4 linked regions of the Homo sapiens genome follow. The protein of the gene in region 2 purifies or fractionates together with the protein of the main gene of each other region. This does not show direct contact. Each region holds a gene or a part of one and is shown on either strand. Other genes may lie near its edges.

What was found. Proteins that work in one complex are often made in the same cells at the same time.
Region 1: the proteins of PDE12 (region 2) and ZNF131 purify together in Homo sapiens (affinity purification with mass spectrometry; one large-scale study listed by BioGRID and IntAct). This does not show direct contact.
Region 3: the proteins of PDE12 (region 2) and PGGT1B fractionate together in Homo sapiens (co-fractionation; one large-scale study listed by BioGRID). This does not show direct contact.
Region 4: the proteins of PDE12 (region 2) and ENOPH1 fractionate together in Homo sapiens (co-fractionation; one large-scale study listed by BioGRID). This does not show direct contact.

Annotation. Positions count from the first base shown.
Region 1 is NC_000005.10:43,119,599-43,123,713, reverse strand, and holds the start of ZNF131 (zinc finger protein 131), read right to left. Parts: upstream 2,801-4,115; 5' UTR 2,591-2,800; exon of another isoform or gene 1,676-2,590; 5' UTR 1,661-1,675; coding exon 1,537-1,660; intron 506-1,536; coding exon 404-505; intron 1-403. UniProt on the Homo sapiens protein: Plays a role during development and organogenesis as well as in the function of the adult central nervous system. May be involved in transcriptional regulation as a repressor of ESR1/ER-alpha signaling.
Region 2 is NC_000003.12:57,555,100-57,559,073, reverse strand, and holds the start of PDE12 (2',5'-phosphodiesterase 12 isoform 1 precursor), read right to left. Parts: upstream 2,801-3,974; 5' UTR 2,695-2,800; coding exon 1,387-2,694; intron 1-1,386. UniProt on the Homo sapiens protein: Enzyme that cleaves 2',5'-phosphodiester bond linking adenosines of the 5'-triphosphorylated oligoadenylates, triphosphorylated oligoadenylates referred as 2-5A modulates the 2-5A system. Degrades triphosphorylated 2-5A to produce AMP and ATP.
Region 3 is NC_000005.10:115,203,878-115,207,377, forward strand, and holds the end of PGGT1B (geranylgeranyl transferase type-1 subunit beta), read right to left. Parts: 3' UTR 863-3,500; coding exon of another isoform or gene 752-862; 3' UTR 135-751; downstream 1-134. UniProt on the Homo sapiens protein: Catalyzes the transfer of a geranyl-geranyl moiety from geranyl-geranyl pyrophosphate to a cysteine at the fourth position from the C-terminus of proteins having the C-terminal sequence Cys-aliphatic-aliphatic-X.
Region 4 is NC_000004.12:82,437,090-82,440,589, reverse strand, and holds part of ENOPH1 (enolase-phosphatase E1), read right to left. Parts: intron 1-3,500. UniProt on the Homo sapiens protein: Bifunctional enzyme that catalyzes the enolization of 2,3-diketo-5-methylthiopentyl-1-phosphate (DK-MTP-1-P) into the intermediate 2-hydroxy-3-keto-5-methylthiopentenyl-1-phosphate (HK-MTPenyl-1-P), which is then dephosphorylated to form the acireductone 1,2-dihydroxy-3-keto-5-methylthiopentene (DHK-MTPene).

The sequences.
Region 1 (4,115 bases), on a different chromosome or scaffold from region 2:
TGCTATAGAGTACAGTAAAAGCTTCTACTGTAACCTGCAGCATCTCCAGCAGTCTGAAACATAAGCCCACTGAACAAAGATAGTAATTCACGTTTAATACTTGTTTTCAAAAAACAATGACCACCAGTTTCCACAATGGAAAAGACCAACATCTACCATCTAAGTTTTTCCTGGCAGATCATTCAACCAAGCACTTCACTGAAAGTAAGACTTCTCAGGTATCAAAAGAACAATTTATCTACCTTTACCTACAGGAACTACTGATGCCTATTTCCTATGGTGTCTTGATAAACTGTCTAAAACTGCTTCACCAATTGTTTGCTAAGTATTGTATTTAAAACAAGCATTTAAATAAAATGGCTTCTTTGATTTATTAAATAAAAAAACAACAAGAATCATTTACCTTCTATCTCCACCAATGGTTCTTGGGTAAACTCCTGAAAGAATTTGTAGAAGAACTTACTACAAGCAGCCAAAACAGCCTTGTGAGCCTTAAAATGGTGTCCTAGGTAAAATAAGAAAAAAAAAGAAAATCATACACAAGCACGAAAATCAAATGTATAACTACAAAATAGACTTAAAAATCATATAAAGCAAAATAGGTCTTCCTTCATTACGTAACTACAGAAATTATTGAACTAAATGCAGAATATTCTTGGCAGCTATCTTGGCAAATGTTAATCTCAATTAGATATAAAGCTAAATCTTCACTTCAAACCCCTTTAGTTTTATAAAGCCTAATTTACAACACTAGGTAAGGAGCCTCTTGACACTCTGTTGTTTCCAATTAAGTAGTGAGAAGCATATCCAACTCAGTTGAAACTGCTAAATAAAAGGACAACCCAAAAGGTCACATATCATTTGGAAAGAGAGAAAAAAACCGTAAGCACAAAGCTGGATATGTCTGCTATGAAAAACATTTTAATATGCCTAATATTTGGAAGCTCCATCTATGGTAGACCCATAATTTTAAAAACAGGTTACCTTGAGAAACCTATTTTCGCTAAACAGAAAACATACCCACGCTGGATTTCCTTCCATTATAGAGGCAACTCCTAAGGCTGGTAAAGACCCCATTTTATTTTGGAGATTCTCAAAGGGGGTATGAGTGCTGCAATGGAATCTCTCATTCTCCCTTCAAGACCATTTGGGAAACTAGAAAAAAAATCAACACTTCCCAAATGACTCCTGTAAGGGACTTCTCAAAGCTTACCAACAAGAGGCTATCAACCAAACATTTTGAGACAATCTGTCCCCAACGACATCATCTTGCACTCAACAGGATGTAAGAAGTTAAAATGAGATGAACACCAGACTACGTGGAAGGCATGACTGACCAACCAGCCTTCTGCAGCACGCTGTGTGAGTGGACACTGACAAGTGCAATCTGGTCCCAGTGCACACACTCTGCAGACTTTGGTAGGGAGACCATAGAGGATGGGTTAAAAAAAAAAAAAAAAAAAAAAAGGCGGGTGTCCGAAGGACAGAAAAAAACTGAAGCCAAAAATTCGCTCCTCTGCCCACTGCCCTACCCACCGTCGACAATTAGGGTGATGTCAGTAAACCGGTCCTGCTCTCGCTGTTCATTCAATCGGTCGAGGATCATTTTATGATGTTCAGGGAACTCCTGAAGGCATTCCATCGTCTCTTCAGCCTCCATGGCCGTCGGGCTGCTCTACAAAAGAAGAGCATGATAATGTACACCCATGAGCTCGAGCCGAGGAACAAAACCCCTAAAGCATAAAACAACAACAAAAAAAACCAGCAACGTGAAAAGAAGGGGGGAGGGTGAAGCAAGAGGAGAGAAAGGCGAGGGAAGAAAGGCGAGCCGAGCGGCCCCGGAGCGTTGAGACCGGAGCCGCGGCCGCGGGACTCCGAGCCTGACCTAATTGGAGTCGGGAGACGCGAGCTAGAGCGGGGTGGGCACAGCGCCGGAGGTTCCGAGCGCCAGGGCGCGCAAGTCCAACAAGGGAGGGGACTCGACAGCCGTGGCGGTCCTCTAACGGCCCGCCAAGCCCTTCTGCCCGGCCGGGGCTCCCACCGCCCCGGGACCCGGTCCGGCCCGCGACCCACAACGACTCTCGGGTCGCCTCTCCCTCCCCCGCCCTCCCTCTTCTCCCCCGCCCCGACCGGGCCGGCACTCACTGAGGGAAGGAGGAGCGGCCCAGGCTTGCGCGTCACTTACGTCGACGCACACCGTCACCGCGTCGAGCTCCGGCTGACGCGGACGCCTTCCGGGCGCCGACCAGCAAGGGAACGGGCCACGCCCCTACCCACACCCCTCAGTGGATGGGCGGGGCCGAGCGCGGGGATTTGGCGCTCACGAAGGGCGAGGGCTTGCTCTCTGAGAAGAAACCGGGCAGCGGTGGGCTTGGGCTACTGCAGAGCCTGGCAGGGCCAGAAGCTGGGAACCTAAGTCATTGCCCTTCAACCTCTCACCCTCCCCAGCTTGACTCCAGGGGCGGACACTTCCCGACCCGAGCCCGGAATGAACTCGCCAACCGTCCTCACAGCCCAGCTACTGCGCGGCCCCTCCCGCCCCGTCCTGCCCCGCCCCCTTCCTTCCGAGACCTGGGTTGGCCCGCCTTACCTAGCTCGTGGGTCGCCCTCCTTCCTCTCCGTCCCTCAGAGCCTCTTGTTCCGTGCTTTCCCCTCCCAGGGCATAATGCGCCCCACGCCTTTCCTGACCCCTAACCCGTGGGTCGCCCTCCATTTTCTTCGTGAGAGCCGGGGCTCCCCTTCTGCTCGGGCCCCGCTGGCGCACGTGCGTTCGGTTGGGCACCCGGGCGGCCGCGGCCCCGGCAGCGGCAGCTACGGGCGCGAGCACGTTCGGGCCGCCCGGAATCTTCCTCCGCGAAGCGCGCCCTCCCCGCGCCCTGCCGCAGCACGTGCTTGCTGGGCTCAGGACCTGGAGCTGCTCAGAATTATTTACACCGGATCCCGTTAGTGCAGGCCTTCCCCACTCCTTTAAAGAGTCCAGGCCGGCGCGGTGGCTCATGCCTGTAATCCCAACACTTTGAGAGGCCTGGGCGGGTGGAGCACATGAGGTCAGGAGTTCGAAACCAGCCTGGGCAACATGGCGAAACCCCGTCTCTACTAAAAATACAAAAATTAGCCGGGAATGGTGGTGGGCGCCTGTAATCCCAGCTATTCGGGAGGCTGAGGCAGGAGAATAGCTTGAAGCGGGGAGGTGGAGGTTGTAGTGAGCTGAGGTAGTGCCACTGCATTCCAGCCTGGGCGACAGAGCGAGACAACGTCTCAAAAAAAAAAAAAAGTCCAGTGACCCACAGTCAGCTGCATGTGACTGCTTCCTTAATTCCTCCAAAGAAATATTATATATAAATACATTTTGAGGATAATTCTATAATTGAGATTTACTTATTTTTTTCTCTCAAAGAACTTGAGAATTGGGATTACGGAGGAACTCAAATAGCTATATGGTAATAATGTCATCATAACTTCAACAGATATGTATTGAGAATCCTAGTACTAGACACTGAGAAGTCCAGCTGTGAACAAGGTATATGTGGTTTCTGCCTTTCTGAATCTTAAGTCTAGTAGACTGCATAGATATTTTGAACAGTAATTGCCTAGGTGCTTGCTGATGAGTTTTGCAACACCTGAAGAACGAAGTAACTGGGTGTCAAGGAAAGCCAGTTGACCTGTAAGAAGAGATGTGGGCGGGCGCGGTGGCTCACGCTTGTAATCCCAGCACTTTGGGAGGCCGAGTTGGGGAGGAGGAGTTCAGCCCAGGAGTTTGAGGCCAGCCTGGGCACATAGCGAGACCCCATCTGTATTAAAACAAAAAATGTTTTTAAGTGATGTGAAGTCTAAGTGTTCTTAGCCAAAAGTATAGCACATGCAAAGGCACCAAGATTATAGCATTCAGGAAACTGAAACAATGTTGCTGGATAGACGCACAAGGGTGCCTTATAAAAAGTGTTGAAGATGTCAGATTTTCTTTTTGCAAGGGGAAGCCTTGCCGCATGGTGACATCCTAAGATGTACTTTTTAAAGAGATAATTCTAGCCCCAATATGGAGAACAGATTAAATGGGACAAGCTGCTAGGAATAGAGATCAACTGGGAGACTGTTAGTAATGTAGATGAAACCAT
Region 2 (3,974 bases):
AATTTTTTTGTATTTGTAGTAGAGACGGGGTTTCATCGTGTTAGCCAGGATGGTCTCGATTTCCTGACTTGTGATCCACCCGCCTCGGCCTCCCAAAGTGCTGGGATTACAGGCATAAGCCACCAGGCCCGGCCTGTTTTTTATCTAAGACTAATGGCGAACTAACGTTTTCTTCCATCTCCTTCCCTTGATGAACTAGGACTGCAGTCATGAAATCCAACTTAAAGTTTCAGGATCTACATGACTAGGTTCAGTGTAACATGTTTTAATAATAGTCCAATATAGGCCGGGCGTGGTGGCTCACGCCTGTAATCCCAGCACTTTGGGAGGCTGAGGCGGGCGGATCACGAGGTCAGGAGATCGAGACCATCCTGGCTAACATGGTGAAACCCCAAACCCCGTCTCTACTAAAAAAATTAGCCGGGCGTGGTGGCACGCGCCTCTAGTCCCAGCTACTAGGGAGGCTGAGGCAGGAGAATCGCTTGAACCCGGGAGGCGGAAGTTGCGGTGAGCCGATATCGCGCCACCGTACTCCAGCCTAGGTGACAGAGACTCCGTCTCAAAATAATAATAATAATAATAATAGTCCAATATATAAAGCTAGTAATATAAACAATACATTTTACATGACAACACTTTGACTGGAGAAAGTGTTTTCAAGCGTAAGCACAGGCTTTGGAGTCAGGCAGACCTGGGTTTGAATACTCATTTCACCATTTATAGCAATGTGACCTGCAAAAAGATGCTTTTCTAGCCAGTTTCGTACTGGCAGTCACTGACAATACCATCCACCTCATGGGCTGTTGTGTGGAGTCAATTAAATGATCTTATAAGGTGCATGAAACACCTTAGGTACTTAAAAAATGGTAGCTGCTCTTCTTATTATGAACAAAATCAATTACTTAAAAACTTTAACACAAGAATGACATCTATAAAATGGGAATAGGGGACTTACTGTGAAGATTCAATGAGCCTATGATTTAAAAAAAACTAGTTTATATTTATGGAGCACTTCAAAACACACCACGCTCTTAAATTTTAAGTACTTTAAAATGTGCCAGAACAGTGCTTGGCAAGTAGTAAAAAACATTAGCTACTATTGTTCTTGCATTTAGCGTGTGTCCCTCTCGCTAGATTGTAAGCACTGTAAAAGTCCCTGCTAGTCTTGTTCAAGGCAACCTGCAGTATGGCAGGCACACCAGAGGTGTTCAAAAAATATCTGCTGAATGAATGAAGAGTAAACTTTGTGCTGAAGATACAAGGGCAAACACACCTTTCAACAATATCTGGATACTTTCATCGCACTTTTAACCCCCACCTCATTCCTCGCCTTCCTGGCCCCTAAAAGTGGGACAGTATGTGAAGAGACGGGCGGAACTACTTTACCTGAAGAACAGAAGATCTCTGGAGCACCTTCTCCTGCGCTGATGGGTACAAAACTAGTTTCTCCAGCAGTTCTTTGTGAAGTGGGTCGGACTCGAGGGCTTCGTAGAATGAAATGTCATGCTGGCTAAGAAGGCTGAACTTAGACTTTCGGTAGAAAGTGGCCAGGCCTTCGTGCTGCTTGATTCGAAACACCCCCTCGAGCCCGAAGGCCTCTAGGGCGGGTACCAAGCTGTCAGAAAACACTGCGCGGTCAACCTCCTGCAAACAGATGACATCGGCGTTGTAGCCGGTGAGTTCCTTCTGGATAAGGTTCTGGCGGTAGTCGAGCTCCAGGGCGTAGGGGGCACAGTATGGGTACAGAACCGTTCGCGAGAACTCAGTCTGCGCGTACGTGTCTGCCAGGATGTTGTAAGAGACAGTGCGGATGAGAGCGTCCTCAGTCACCTTCTTCGTGTAGAGATGCCGGTGGTCAAAAGTGCAGGTGCCAGGCCCAGCCTCTACCACACACACACTTTCCAACTCCCGGCTGTGCCCAAAGCGCTGCCCATCGCCTGGGGTGCAGTGAAGCTTGAGCCTTAGCCCGATGTCGGCATTGGACGGGGTGTAGACACGCTCCTCCACATCAGTCTCAGTCCAAGAAGAAGAAGGTGAGGAGGGAGACAATGACGAGGGGACACCGACCTCGGGCTCCGCCGCTCCGGGCTTGGCTTCCTTATACCAGCGGAAAAGGGAGCTGGCGGGATCCCCAAATTCGAGGCTGAGTTTGGGGCACACAGGGAACCCGGCCATGATGTAGCGCGGCAACTGCAGTTCGGTGAAGGCGGGCGGGTTGCGCTCCACCTTGTACTTAACATCGCCGATCTGCAGCACCGCGCCGTCTTGCCAGGCATCCACGTTGAGCACGTCCTCAGCCACTGCCTCTTCCCGGTAGTACAGCTTCACCACGGGCTCGCAGAACACAGCCGGCTCAGGCCCCGGCCCTGAACAGGCCGCACCGCCGCTAGCATTCGGCCGGCTCTTCCTGCTCTTCTTGGCGGCGGCCGCCTTAGCGTGACCCTTTAGGGCATTGGTAGCGATGCGGCTGAGGACTCGACCCAGCGGCTCGCTCTGGTCGCGCTGCATGTTCTTGTGGCTACCATCAGCCAAAGCGAATGACAGGCTCAGCTTGGGTTCCGAAGGTACGCAGCGCACTACAGCGCGCTCCATCGCTCCCGCCGCTGTCTGGCTCCCCGCTTCAGCCCGGCTCAGCTTCTCCACCGCCGTCCGGATCACCCGAAGCGCGGCGCGGGCGCCTGGGAGCCTCCACATGAACCTGGTGGCCTAGCGGTCGACAAGACCCGCGGCCGATCAGCGGCCTACTGTCAGGTGGAGCTGAGGAGCCGAGGCCGCCGGCTTTGACTCATTCAGATCTCGCGACTTCCGGCTAGCGAAGAGAGGGAATGAAGTGCTTCCGACTCGCACTTTCGCCTAGCGCGTGGGCACGCATGTCTGTAATACTCTGAAGATTAATTTTTACCTACACGATAGGTCAGAATTATAGGGAAGTGAAGAAAATATAAAGGTGTCAGAGGAAAATACTAGATTCCACGGTTTTGTCGAAAGTGCATGCTGGTGACGGGAGGGCATGCCCTCCAAGCCGGAAGTGGATAGGGTGGTGTCACGTGTTCCGCTTCGTTGGAGGAGGTGGACACCTGTCTTGGAATCTTGGCTGACCAGCTCTCCTCCCTGCGCCCGGGACTGGACTGCGCTAGGACGTGGAGGCCTCCACCCGGATTGCGAGCTTTACTCGCAGTGTGGAAGGTGTTGCCCATTTCATCTCCACAGCTTTGCCGACCCTGATCGCTCGTTTCGGTGGCCTGGTGGGTTCACCCCAGGCTGAGCCAGCGCCTACGCACCTCTGAGCAGAGCCTTTGTGGTAGTTAACAACGAACGATATACAATAACTCCGTTTAGTGAGCGCAGACTATGCGAGAAACGCTACACACACTATCTTATTTAAGCCTCATAGTTCTTATGAGGTAGGTCTCTTTATCCATCGCTTTACAGATGCAGAGTCCCGAGATATTACCTGCTCAGGGTCACACAACTATTAATTGGCAGAAAGAAATAGTACTGACAAACTGCGGAAGGCTGTTTGTTATTTTTTATTAGAGACAGGTTGTCACTTTGACGCCCAAGCTGGAGTGCAGTGGCCTGATCATAGCTCACTGCCCCCTCGAACTCCAGGGCTCGTGCGATCCTCCCGCCTAACCCTCTCAAGTACAAACAGGCAAGAGCCACCCAGTGTTTATTTTTAGTTAGTAAATAGGAAGACTCTATTTAGTTACTACATTTAACAAATAAAATTACAGGATCTCAGTTAAATTCAATTTCAGATAAGGAATAATAATGGGGCATATATTAAGAAATAGTTGTTTATCTGTTTATTTTATTTTTTTATTTTTTAGGTAGGGCCTTGCTCTTTCACCCAAGCTGGAGTGCAGCTGTGCGATCTTGGCTTACTGCAACTTCGGCTTCCAGAGTTCAAGCGATTCTCGTGCCTCAGCCTCCCAAGTAGCTGGGACTACAGGCACACACCACCACGCCCA
Region 3 (3,500 bases), on a different chromosome or scaffold from region 2:
AAAGACACTGCTGAAATCGGAAGAGACTGAGATTGTTAGCTAACACATTCAAATGGCCCTTTTCCTTAGCCTCCCCCCATCCCTTAATAGCCAAAGATATGGGTAAATAAAAATGAAATCCATTTGAGAAAACGTTTTCTTTGCATATCTGAGTATTTATTATGTTTTCGATCCAGCTACCACACACTAAAATCATATTAGTTTTTCGGGGGTAGGAGTAAAGATCACATTGTTGAATTATAAAGAGCTTACTGTTAAGAATCCTATCTTTTTAAAATATAAATTTGCAAATAATCAACTGTTTCTACCCAAGCTGCTTTTTCTCTATCAGTGATTGGTTCTCAACTTTGAATGTGCATTGAAACCACTTGGAGGGCTTGTTTAAAACACAAATGTCTAACCCTACCCCCAGAGTTTCTAATTCAGGAGGTCTAAGGTACCGCCAGAGAATCTGCACTTTCTAACGAGTACCCAGGTGATGCTAGTGTTTCCATCTGTAGACAACATTTGGAAAACTAGTGCTCTAAGTCCTGCTTTAGTGGAGAGACATTATTCTGATTTCACTCTCAAAGGCATACAGTTGGCATTAATTCATACAGCACATATAAAGAATTAACCTCCCCCCAAACTTATTAGAACTTGATTTCCACACATTATCAATAACGGAATACCATTTTCACCCACCTAGAATGAAAAAACTTTAAGCTTGATAAAATCCGGTGTCACAAAGGATATGAGGAAACAGGCACTCTCATACCTTGTTGTTGAGTTTATGAATGGCTACACTGTTTCTGGATGGCAATTCTTGGCAGTAACTACCAATATTTTTAAAGCATAAATCCTTTAGTCCAGGAAATTCTTTCTAGGAACACCATAAAAATAAATAAGTGAATAAATGAATGATGTTCATAGCAACGTTTATGAGCTGTAAGTAACCTAAGTTTCTCTTAATATGATAAATATTAAAATATATCCAGTCATAAAAGTGAAAAGCATCTTCTGATTATTTCCACAAGTTAACCACTGAATAACTGTCTACAGTATGTTCTGTAGTAGAAAAAAGATACTCTGTAACAGAATCTCATTTGTGGGTGTTCTAGTGTGGTACTCAATTGCTGAAACTTAAATGACAAGATGAAAATCCATTAACAGGCTAGCATACTACTTAGTTGCACTTTATCAAATCGATTTTAGTGATTGTTTTCCTTCAATCTTTAGAGATTTCATAAAGCTCTACCAAACTCCTTGACTTGCTCATGTAGAATTAAATGAGAGGGAAATTGGCTTTGAGCCTAAATTCATAATCTTTTACTTTTTCACAATTTCTCCAGTGAATTGTATGTCTTTCATGATCCCACCTATACTTTAAGAAAACTTTTTGACTCACAAGTAGATGCAAACATACATGAGTGAGGTCCCATGTACCAATCACCAACTGCTTTAATGAGGACACCTTATATGCTGGTAGTGCATTACCAGTTGGTTCAGGGAATCCCACATACAATTTTAATGGCCACCCTTAATTTAGTTAGAGCCTCAAGATATTTAATGAAAAGTTTGAACAAACATGGAAAAACATGGAAAGAAGAGGGTGGAGAATGATCACCTCAGTTAAAAAAATGTGGCATAAAAAGAATGTTATTTCTGGAGACAGAAAACATGCACTCTAGTTACAGTACTGCTACTAACTGTTAAAGCTTTATCTTGTGTGAGTTAATTCATATTTGGAATTCAGATTTATAATTCGTAAATGAGTTTGAGGAACGAAGCCACAAAGGTCTTTTCTAATGCCACAATTATTACAAGTAGACAGTTTTACTATCAGAAACCCATTTTCTGATCATATTTAAAATCTTAGTGTCAAGATAAAAGTGTGCATTAGTACAACCTTCTTAAAAAGCAGCTTGGCAAAAACAAAAACATCAAATTTAAATTGTGCACACTTTTTGCCCCAGTAATTCCTTATCTATAAATTTAAAGAAACATGCAAATGGGCAATTATACATTTTCAAGGATCTCACAGCAATATTTTTGTAGTTGTGAAAAATAAGGCACTGATTAATCAGTGCCTCATTTGCCATTAAAATGGTAAAAAGTGCAATTACTTATGCACTGACCTAATATGTTTATGCAACGTGATACTATGCAACTATTAAAGTATGGCTATTGAAAGGCATTCATAATACATTGTTGAATGAAAAAAAACCATGGAATATTTAGTACCTCAGATCTTTATGTATAGTATACATACATATATCTATTTGTATAAGTATATATTGTATTGGGATGAGTAATACTTAAATGTTCAGATATTTAAAGAATATTCTCTATTTCTATATCTCTATATACAGAGATTAAAGGTCTGAAAGATGTATGCAACAGTGGTGTTTACCTCCAGGAAGTATAGGCTGTGGGTATAGTATAGGCTGGGATGGGGAGAGAACTATCATTTTTCTTTAAATTATAAAACTAAATGACCATTTTAAAAAAAGGTTCAAAGTGAAATAAGCTATATATTTTTTAAAATTGTAAATATCTGAATAATTAAGCACCAGTAATCTCAATAGCACTTACTTAAAAGTTCATTTTCTCACTAACTTGAGATGCTGCCTTTACTGTATTCTAAATGCCACTGAGTCTATTTCTGGAATTCCTCTTCTGTTCCATTGGACTTCCTATTTATGTGCCAATACAAAACTTTTCATTTATTCAACATTACGAATGCCTTCCAATATCCATACTTTAACAGTTGCATAGTATTGAGTTACATAAATGTATCATAATGTGTCTTATTTTTCACAATTACAAAAATGTGGCTGTGAGATCCTTGAAAATGTATCATTGCCTATTTGCATGTTTCTTTATGCTAAATCTATAGATAGAGAGTATCTGGGCCAAAAAGTGTGCACACTTTAAAAAATTCTGATAGCTTCTGCCATGGAGGATTTAGAGTATGTTTTAGTGTCGGATATGGCTGGTCCCCTCTAATTCTTTTCAGTTTCCATGGTTATTCTAGTATGTTCTCTCAAATAACAATATAATTTTTATTGGAATGGCACTGAATTTATAAATGAACCTAAGTGGGGAAAGACATGTTTTGATGTTGTCTATCTAAGAATATCATGTATCTTTCCATTTGGTGGAATCTACATTTTTGCCTCTCAAGAGTTTTTTTAGTTTTCCTCATACAGATTTTAGATGTGTCTTAAATTTACACATTAAGTTTTCTTTTTACTTTTGCTATCACAAAGGTGGTCTTCTCTTCAAGTATCTTCTAACTAGTTTAGGTTTGCATATACATACATATATATATATATATATATATATATAGTCTTGTTACTCTTTTTAGTAAACATTTTTACTGAGCTATAATTATACATACAGAAAAGTGCACAAATCATATACAGCTTGATAAATATTCATAAGGTGAATGCACCTACGTAACCAGCACCTAGATCATGAAACAGAACATTACCAGCACCGCAGAGTCTCCCTTGTAC
Region 4 (3,500 bases), on a different chromosome or scaffold from region 2:
TAGTCCTTAACAGTGGAGGGGAAAGGAAGGCATTCACATTCATCTCCTTGAATCTGCCTAACATCCCTGCAAAGTAAGCCTTCTTTCATAGAGGAAGACACTGAGGTTCAAAGAGGTTTCGCTGCTGGTGCAGAGTAAAGCCAGGACTCAAACCCAGGCCTATCAAATCCCAACACCTGAAGCCATCCAGCTCTCACGGGTGAATGACTTCAAGGAGCACTACTCACCAGGATCATCTAACTCCCTGGATCTTGACAGCATATTCTCTATGGAAATTTCTAATATAGCTTTGATTCCCCAAAGAGGTTTCATACAAAGAAAATGAGAGATTATGGTTCACCCAGTAGTTCTGTAACATTTCCTATAAAGTATCAGCAATAATAATTCAAGTAGTTATAGTAATGGGAGTAACTGCCAACATTTACTGAGCACTTACTATGACAAACACTTCTCTTTTCTATCTATAATCACTCCTTTGTGATCTTACCTAATTCCATGACTTTAAATACCATTTATACTAATGATCCCCAAATCCTTACCTTTAGCTTGGACCTTTTCCAAATGCCTACCCAATATCCCCACTTGCATGTCTATTCAGTATCTCAAACTAAACACATCTGAAACCAAACTCTTGATTCCATCCCTTAATCCTCCTCCTCCCCCTACATCTCCACATCACAGTAAATGACAGAACCATCCTTCCAGATGCTCAGGCCAAAAACCTTAGAGTCATCTTTGACTCCTCTTTCTCTCAAACTCCACATCCAACCAATCCATCAGCAAATCCCATCAGCTCTACCTTCAAAATATATTCAGATCCAATCACTTCTCACCACTGCCACCACCAAGCACTCAAAATTTACTCAACTTACTGATAATGTCATTTTAATCTTCATAATAACCCTGTGAAATTGGTGCTACTACTTCCTCCATTTTTCAGAGGCACATAAAGGTTAAGTACAAATTAACAAACTGAGATTATAGTTTACCAATCAGGTCTTTCTTTTTGAGTTTATAGAGTCAGATGCCTGGAATCTCCCCAGTATCAGATCGGGGGTAAAGATCCCACTCTTTACCCCCATCAAAGGGATCTAATTACCTTCCTGAACTTACAACGACTTGGACCCATACAAGACCAGTCCAGAGAGAGCTGGAGTAAGTATACACAAGCTTAACTGTCAAACACTGGTCTGATTGTGAGCTCCAAAGTCCCACCAAGGTCTCAATGCTGAAATTACCATTAGTTTCCAAACCGCATGCCTTAGTTTCTCTTTACTCAGTAAAGGGGTACCAGGTCCACACTTTTTAGACTTAAGAAAAGGAACTTGTTAGAAGGTCACATCATGAATCACTGGAAAGAAAATCAAGCTAAGAAATGAACCCCTCATGCACATACCTAGAAGGCAAACAACCCCTTTCTGTCCTAAAGACATTCTGTCTTTGAAAAGAAACCCATTTTCCTGAAATGGTATCACCTGGGAAAGGTCCAGAGAGGATCCAGGAGGGCCTCTGAGGATAAAGCTACCAACTTTCCACACGACTCTTTAGTGAGCTGATGGGAAAATGGGTGCAATAGGATTAGGGCAGGTTGGTTTCCACTCCTCTTCTGACCTGCACCTCCAACAAAACCAGTTTTGAAAATCAAATGAGTTGATAAATGTGAAATTCAAAGTTTCATATAAAAATAACCTTTTATTGTAAAAAAGAATACTTTGTTTTCTTTAGTGGAGTGGTAACACAGGGTAAGCTGCAAGGATAGAAAATTTTAAGACCCATCAGACAAAGAAGAAGTAAGCACTTTTCAGGGCTAAACACAGGGTATCATTTTAAAAGTCTGTATGAGCAAGATAAAATCCAGCCTATGTATTTAAAATATAGGGGTTATAGCTTAAAATCAGTGCCCCTTTTAAAAATTGTTATTTTTTCGATCACGCCACTGCATTCCAGCTCTGTCACCCAGGCTGCATGCAGTGCAGTGGCACAATCACACCTCACCACAGTCTCTACCTCCTGGGCTCAAGTGATCCTCCCACCTCAGCCTCCTGAGTAGCTGGGATTACAGGTGCACATCACCATGTCCAGCCAATTTTTTATTTTTTGTAGAGATGGGGTCTCCCTATGTTGCCCAGGCTGGTCTTGAACTCCTGGACTCAAGTAATCTCCTTGCCATGGCCTTCCAAAGTGCTGGGATTACAGGTGTGAGCCACCATGCCCAACCCCTTTTACTCAATAAGTCTGACTACATATCTTTCAAAGATCTGTATGACTTTACTGTGTACCTAGGGAAAAAAACAGAAGGAATATTCACCAAACTCTTAATGGTCACCTCTGGATGGCAGGAGCATATCAGGGCTTTCACTCTCTATATCATACTCTTCTTTGTCTGCAATTTTATAATCAGGGCGAACTAATTTTCTAGGAAGAATATTTGGGGGGGTAGAAAAACCTTTCCTCTAGTCTTACATTAACAGATGCAAGTTTCTATAAATAACATATTTCACTTTTTATCTTAATTTTGTTAATAAAATTTTCTCTTTTATGACATTTAATTTCCATTATCAGCTGGTTTCATCCTCTATAACTTGTAGGTTTTGGAAATGTTGAGTCAATGAATTCTAATGCCACTCTAGAAACACTTTCAGTTAAATTGTTCAAATATAATAGAGTACCACCTTGAGGAAATCTGAAATAGCAAGGATTGCAGAGTATGGAAGAAACTGAATCCCAGTCCCTCCCACACCCATTCCGGAATGCATATCACCATCACCCAGCATGTTACAGCATGCCTGATGTGTAAGCACTGTGTGAGGCTCTGGTCTCTGCCCTTGAGGAGCCTTCCACACAGCTTGAAAAAGAGGACACACATCCAACATCACAAGTCAGCTATTGGCTCCAGTAGCAAATACTACACATGGTACTGACAATGAGTTCAGAGGACGAAGAGAAAGGACTTTGAAATTCCTGCTTAAATAGGTCCTTTACAAGAAGAGGTAGCTCTTACTTCCATATTCCCACAGCTTAGCACAATAAGTAATTTTTTTTTAAGTTAATGAGTGCATGGGACCCACACTTGGAGACGAAAAGGTATGACATTCCAAGCTGGAAGAATGGTGGCAGCAAGAAAGGGCATGATTGGAATGTGCATGTTCAGCTATGTAAAGTGTAAAGAGAGGGATAGAAAGTTGGAAAACCCAATTTGTTGAACTCTCATCTCACAGCCAGTGAGAGACTACAGAGGACTTTGATTATGCAAAGGCGACCTATTTATGTAACTGTCTTCCTTTCTAGGTTCCCTGAGGAACCTGAGGGTGACAGCTGGGTCTTAAGGACTCTGGATCCCTACCATATCCTGGAACATGACAGGTATTCAATTAAATGTGAGGGAAAGGAAAGAAGGATTGATTAGGCTGGAAAGATTATGCTAATGCCACAATACTGAAGGTTCTAGAAAAATAAGGAACCAGAAATCAAAGTGAGAGGTGCTTTCTTTTTTTATAATT